Regions from separate parts of the Homo sapiens genome. Here region 1 is linked to region 2. A link means that fine-mapping ties the variant in region 2 to the expression of a gene that starts in the linked region. Tissue or cell type: whole blood. Region 2 holds a variant in brackets; the other region holds the start of a gene. All regions are shown on one strand. Distances are between the middles of the regions.

The links. PIP is the estimated chance that this variant, and not a neighbour inherited with it, causes the effect.
Region 1: DUT starts here. The variant in region 2 is fine-mapped to the expression of DUT in whole blood (INTERVAL, PIP above 0.99).

What each region holds. Positions count from the first base shown.
Region 1 is chr15:48,329,807-48,332,566 of GRCh38, forward strand. It overlaps DUT (deoxyuridine triphosphatase), which reads left to right and starts at 1,623. Exons shown (of 7, transcript NM_001025248.2): 1 at 1,623-1,989; 2 at 2,462-2,600. The coding sequence starts at 1,710. It overlaps DUT-AS1 (DUT antisense RNA 1), which reads right to left and starts at 2,050. Exons shown (of 3, transcript NR_186809.1): 1 at 1,757-2,050. RefSeq lists enhancers at 1,131-1,657, 1,658-2,182, 2,106-2,400 and silencers at 1,846-2,055, 2,106-2,400.
Region 2 is chr15:48,382,933-48,385,692 of GRCh38, forward strand. No RefSeq gene overlaps it. Among named protein-coding and RNA genes, the nearest start is that of DUT-AS1, 52 kb to the left of the region's middle. The variant A/G (reference allele first, on the strand shown) is at 1,663.

The DNA of each region.
Region 1 (2,760 bases), 53 kb before region 2:
CGAGATCGAGCCATTGCACTCCAGCAAGGCTCTGTCTCAAAAAAAAAAACAAAAACTATGAAGTAAATTATGGTTGAAACATGTTTAGTTCTTAACTGCAGTATCTTGCATTTAAGGTGTATGTTCATAACAAGTTATATTTCTATTGTCATAAAGAACGTTCTATTAAATGCTTACTGGCTCAGAATCCTATTACTTTTTGCCAGTTAGATTATGGCCGTTTCTCTTTTAGTCTAAAATAAACTCAGCTGAAAAGTAACAATAAACACTTTATGTATACAGATTAACAACAAAAAATAGAAGGTAACCTGCTTGGTGTTAGATATTGTAATAAGCCAAACAAGTAACTTTTGTGTAAACACTGAAGTAAGTGCTTTGAAGAATTCATAAAAGTTTATGACTCTAATTCATGTGAGAGATAAAATGCATATACATCAGAAGATTACACAATGAAAGTATATGGCTAACGACTAATGAATGATATAGTAAGTGTTAAAAGAGATAAGATGGGGCAGAGGTCACTACTGATTGTAAAAAGTTTCATGAATGAAGCGAGACTTTTATCTGGGTCTAGGAAAATGAAGTCGTTACAATCATTACATCTTAGTACAAGCAAGGAATCAAATAGTATGTCTCTCATGTGAACATTTTAAGTAAATAACTGGAGAAAGTACTTCAACAAAATAAGGGAGCAAAATAATGTTGGCTCAAAATGAGGTCGAAAAGTTGCAGGGCTCGGATCGTGTTGCTAAAGGCATAAATTTGGGAGTCCTCAAGCTGTAGCTAATAGTTAACGTCCAGAGAAGGTAGTGTATATTCCATAGCCTCATGCAAAGGAATTCCAACTACGAAGACGAACCAGTTAAGGAGACCGAAAAGGGGGGGCCTGTATGGAAAGGCATAGCAACGAATGTAAAATTTCCCCAATAATACTCTAAAACTGCCCCACAGCTTTTTTAATTTTGAAAATTCAAAACCATTCAATTCAGCTCGCAGATTTTTGTGAGAAATAAGGAGATACTTGCAGCTCAGAAAAAATTATTAACAACTATCTAGAAAGTTACTGCTTTATCCCCCACTGTAAACTATACTACCACGACCCGGGATCCTTGTTCGACTCCTAGCCAAGGGGTTCCCACTGCGTTTCTGTTGGGTTATCCCAAACCTGTGATAGGATAGTAGCGCCCTCCCTGCCTCCGGTCGAATAAACACTACAACGTCTGACACTCGGTGCTGAAAGGAAATCGGGCGCGGTGTCTTGCCCACAGCTTGGGGAGCGGCCCCGGGCGCAATAACTGTCACCGGCGCCGAGATGCGGTTCCGGCGCTTAGGGCGCCGCTAAACTCAGAGCCCGGGAGTCATGGCTGCGGGCGGTGCCGCCCCAGGTAAATCAGTCCAGGAGCAGGGCCCGGGCCTGGCGTACACTCTCGGAAAAATGGGGGCCAGAGCAAACAAGAAGAGCGAAAGCAAGAGGGCTAGGCAGCCAGAGGCGGCAGCAAGACTCAAGACGCCAACGGCGCCGTCTTCCTGGGGCCCCAGGGCCTGCGCCATCCCTGGGCTGCCGGGGCACCGCCTCTCCACGCCCCTCGTCCGGCGGCGGCTGCGACTGCTTCCGAGGTCATGTTCCCAGGACGGGCGCGTCTTCAGGGTGGAAGCCTGGCGCACGTCCGGAGGTGCCGAGGACCCAACCAGCCCAAACTCTGGGGGAAATGACTCCCCTCTGCCCTCGCCCCGCGCTCTGCTACCATTTCCTTACGTCTCTGCTTCGCTCAGCGATGCAAAACGCGCGAGGCGCACGGCAGAGGGCCGAAGCCGCGGTACTCTCCGGGCCAGGCCCGCCCCTCGGCCGCGCCGCGCAGCACGGGATTCCCCGGCCGCTGTCCAGCGCTGGCCGCCTGAGCCAAGGCTGCCGCGGAGCCAGTACAGTCGGGGCCGCTGGCTGGAAGGGCGAGCTTCCTAAGGCGGGGGGAAGCCCGGCGCCGGGGCCGGGTAGGAAAGGCGGGGGAGGGGCTCCGGCCGTCTGGAAGGAATCCACGCGGCTTGAGGCTGTGGGGGAAGTAGGGTGGCGAGCGGTCCTTCTGCGCGCGGGGGGCGGGGGGGGTGGGGTGGTCCATTAGGGTCCCCTGGCGAGGGGGCGGCTTTCTAGTGTGTGAGGGCGACGCCCTAGAAGCTCCCCTTCAAAGTTGGCCCCACGCGCTGAATGTGGAAAGTTGACTGGGACCCAGTAGTTTCCCATCCCAAACCTGCTTTCCGAGAAGGGCTTCAAACCCAAAATGTGAATCCCGCCTCCCCTCTCAGCCAGAACTGTGGACTCGTCCCGGGGAGGGGCGGTGGGTGGGGCGGGGCTGGCGGGAAATTTCGGTTTTGGCGCGCTCCCTGCGGCGACGCTCATCGTGCGCTCTCCTCTTCCCCCGGTGGTCTCCTCGCTCGCCTTCTGGCTCTGCCATGCCCTGCTCTGAAGAGACACCCGCCATTTCACCCAGTAAGCGGGCCCGGCCTGCGGAGGTGGGCGGCATGCAGCTCCGCTTTGCCCGGCTCTCCGAGCACGCCACGGCCCCCACCCGGGGCTCCGCGCGCGCCGCGGGCTACGACCTGTACAGGTGAGCGGGGACCTGCCGGCGAGGAGGCTGGGAAGGGCCGGCCGTCCGCTGCCACAGCTAGAAACAGTCACCGGAGAGATCACAGGAACACACTAGCTATAAATAGGATTTCTGCCTTTTTCGTGTTTAAAATTTTAGCTTTCATCTTTGGCATAAATTA
Region 2 (2,760 bases):
GATTAAAACTAATTTTTATGAGAAAAACAAATATAAGTTGCTAAATCAAATCCAAAAACCAATTACTAAAGTGCAAAAAGGAGGTATGGGAGAATGTGTGAGTGGTAAATCTGACCCTGCATGAAAAAACACTTAGACATTGATTTGGAAAAGCGTTATACTGCAAAAGCAATCCCAAAATCTTGTGCACAATGCAATAACAGTTTATTTTTCACTCAAGCAAATTGTGCTGCATGTCTGGGCAGCGTGCTAGGGCTGCTGTCCTCCATGTGTTGGCTCAGCATTCCAGCTTGATTCAATCTATGACAACTCTGTATCAACACATGGGTTGACAATAGTCAGGATGGGCAAAGAGATGCCTGGAAAGATGAGAATAAGCACTTAAGTGCCTGAACCTGGAACTGACATGTGATACTCTACTCATTTCCTATTGGCCACAGCTGGTAACATGACTATTTAAAAAACTGTTTTTCTCTATTCTCACAACACTTCTAACACTAAATTTGTGGGGATTTTTCTCACACCAACCAATTTTTCCAATTTTCAACTAGGTGTCCTACAATTTAACTCATTTCTGACACTATCTGCCCAGAGTTGGTGCCGACCCCACAGGTTGAGGCCTCAGTCCTACAAGAATGCACCACTAAAGGATCCCGAGCACAGAAGTTTCTGTCTCCATGGAATTTGGGGTGCTCCATCTTCCCAGCATGTGGATGCATTCTTGTTCACCAACCTGGAAGCTCTTCAAACCCCTTTGCTTAATTTTTTTAGGAAGGCTTCATGATATAGGCATGATTGATTAAATCACTGGCCATTGATGATCAACTCAACCTCTAGCCCCTCGCCCCTCCCAGAAAGGCAGAGGGTGTGAAACCAAGTTCCAATCCTCTAATCACATGGTTGGTTCTTTTAGCAACCAGTTCCTATCCTGAAGCCATCCAGGAACCCCAGCCACCAGTCATCTCATTAGCATACAAAATACACTTATCATTTGGGAGATTCTAAGGATTTTAGGAACTGTATTCCAGGAAAGAAGGGCAGAGACAAAATATATATTTTGCATTCTGTCACAATGACCATAGCTATCTTCAAGAGGCAGGGGAGTGTACTACTTCCATGTGCTCAGAGAGTAGAGCAGAACTGGTGATTGGTGACCAAGGGCGTGGCCTAGTCAAAAATTCTAGTGGGAAGTAAATTAATTATGAGTTCAAAATACCACAGGCTTTAAGAAACAGATAAATAGGAAACAAAGTCAATAGAAGTAAAATCTCAGAATGAAGAAACTGATAATGGTGTTGGTTCCTCTCCCTGAACAGAATATACATTGAGTGCTGTGTTCATATGAGGGACTGAACTTCAAGAGGTCCTCCGGAGGTGTTCAGAGGGAAGTAACTAGATGCAGAATAGTTAAGAATTCTTATGGTTTAGACTAGAGAAATCTGAGGACAAAATAGCCATTCATTCTCGAATATATGAATATTTGACTTGCTTTAAGGAACTGTGTGTTGTAATTTACAAAGAGACAGACTCTTTAAGAAAGAGTATTTTGCAGTCACACTGCATTAGTTGCCTTGGGGAGCTCTCCTTCTCAAAGGGTGGGGCTCCAAGCATGGGATGAACGTCCTCTGGCACAAAGAGGAAAAGAGGGAATTCAGGCATCAT[A/G]TGGCTCATTGGATTAGATGATCCTTAAAGATGCTTTTACTCTCAAATTTGATAGCTTGGTGGGATAGGTGCCCACAATTCCCATTTGGGTGATTGCCCCAGGACCTCCAAAACTACTGGCACTTGCTTGGACTTCCTCTCAGATCCTGGGGCCATACATTGCTAGGATCTGGCTACACAAATTAGAAGCTGATGACTCATATCCCAAAGGTGAAAAGATAGGGTGTGGTTCTGAGTCCTGAGTTGCTGTATTTTATCCAGAATTGAATTCACAAGGCGGCTTCGAGTCATTCCAAAGCTAATGTGGAAACACACAAGAAGCCGCACACCCTATTGTCTTCCTGCAGTGAAGTTGGGTTGAACTCATGCAAACCAAAGTTGATTTAAACAACAACAACAAAAATCAAATTCTTGTCAGGCAAAGTCTTTTGACGTTGTTTTATTCTTGAGTGAATATTTACAGCTGAGTTGGAAACTCTATCAAATAGGAATTAGAACTTTGCCAACTCCTGATGTACATCTTAGCCAGGGTATGCAGGGTATGCACGCAGCCTCTTCAGAGCTGCTCTGCTTCACTGACCAGGGGTTGACTGAGTTCTTCACTCTGTAACCATTTCCTGACATCCTCTGCATGGACACTCTTGCACAGACATTTTTTTTTTTTTAATCTAGGAGTTGCACTTTCTTGGTTACTATGGCTGCAAATTGTTTATACTGGATTCATAGTCAGGTTTTTATTTCCTTTTGTAATTTTTCCCGTGAACTAATAAGCCACAGTGGAGTTAAAAGTGCGAGTAAATGTGAACTCTACACAAAGCATTTTTATGTTCTATTGCCATTCCCTTCCTACCCTTAATCATTTAGAGCTGTTAACATAAAAAAAAATAAAAGTGTTCAGCCTCCTCTCTACTCCCCTCCTTTGCCCTCTCATTTCCCAAGCATCAGAGGGGAAGAACCACCACCCATTTCCCATCAGGACTGTTTGCAGAGTAACACATGTCCTCAATTACTGGGATCAGAAACTGAAGGCACCTTGGGTTGGTGATAGATGACTGGTTGGCCTCTGCTGGATATGCGTCATGGATGCCACAATAGGAA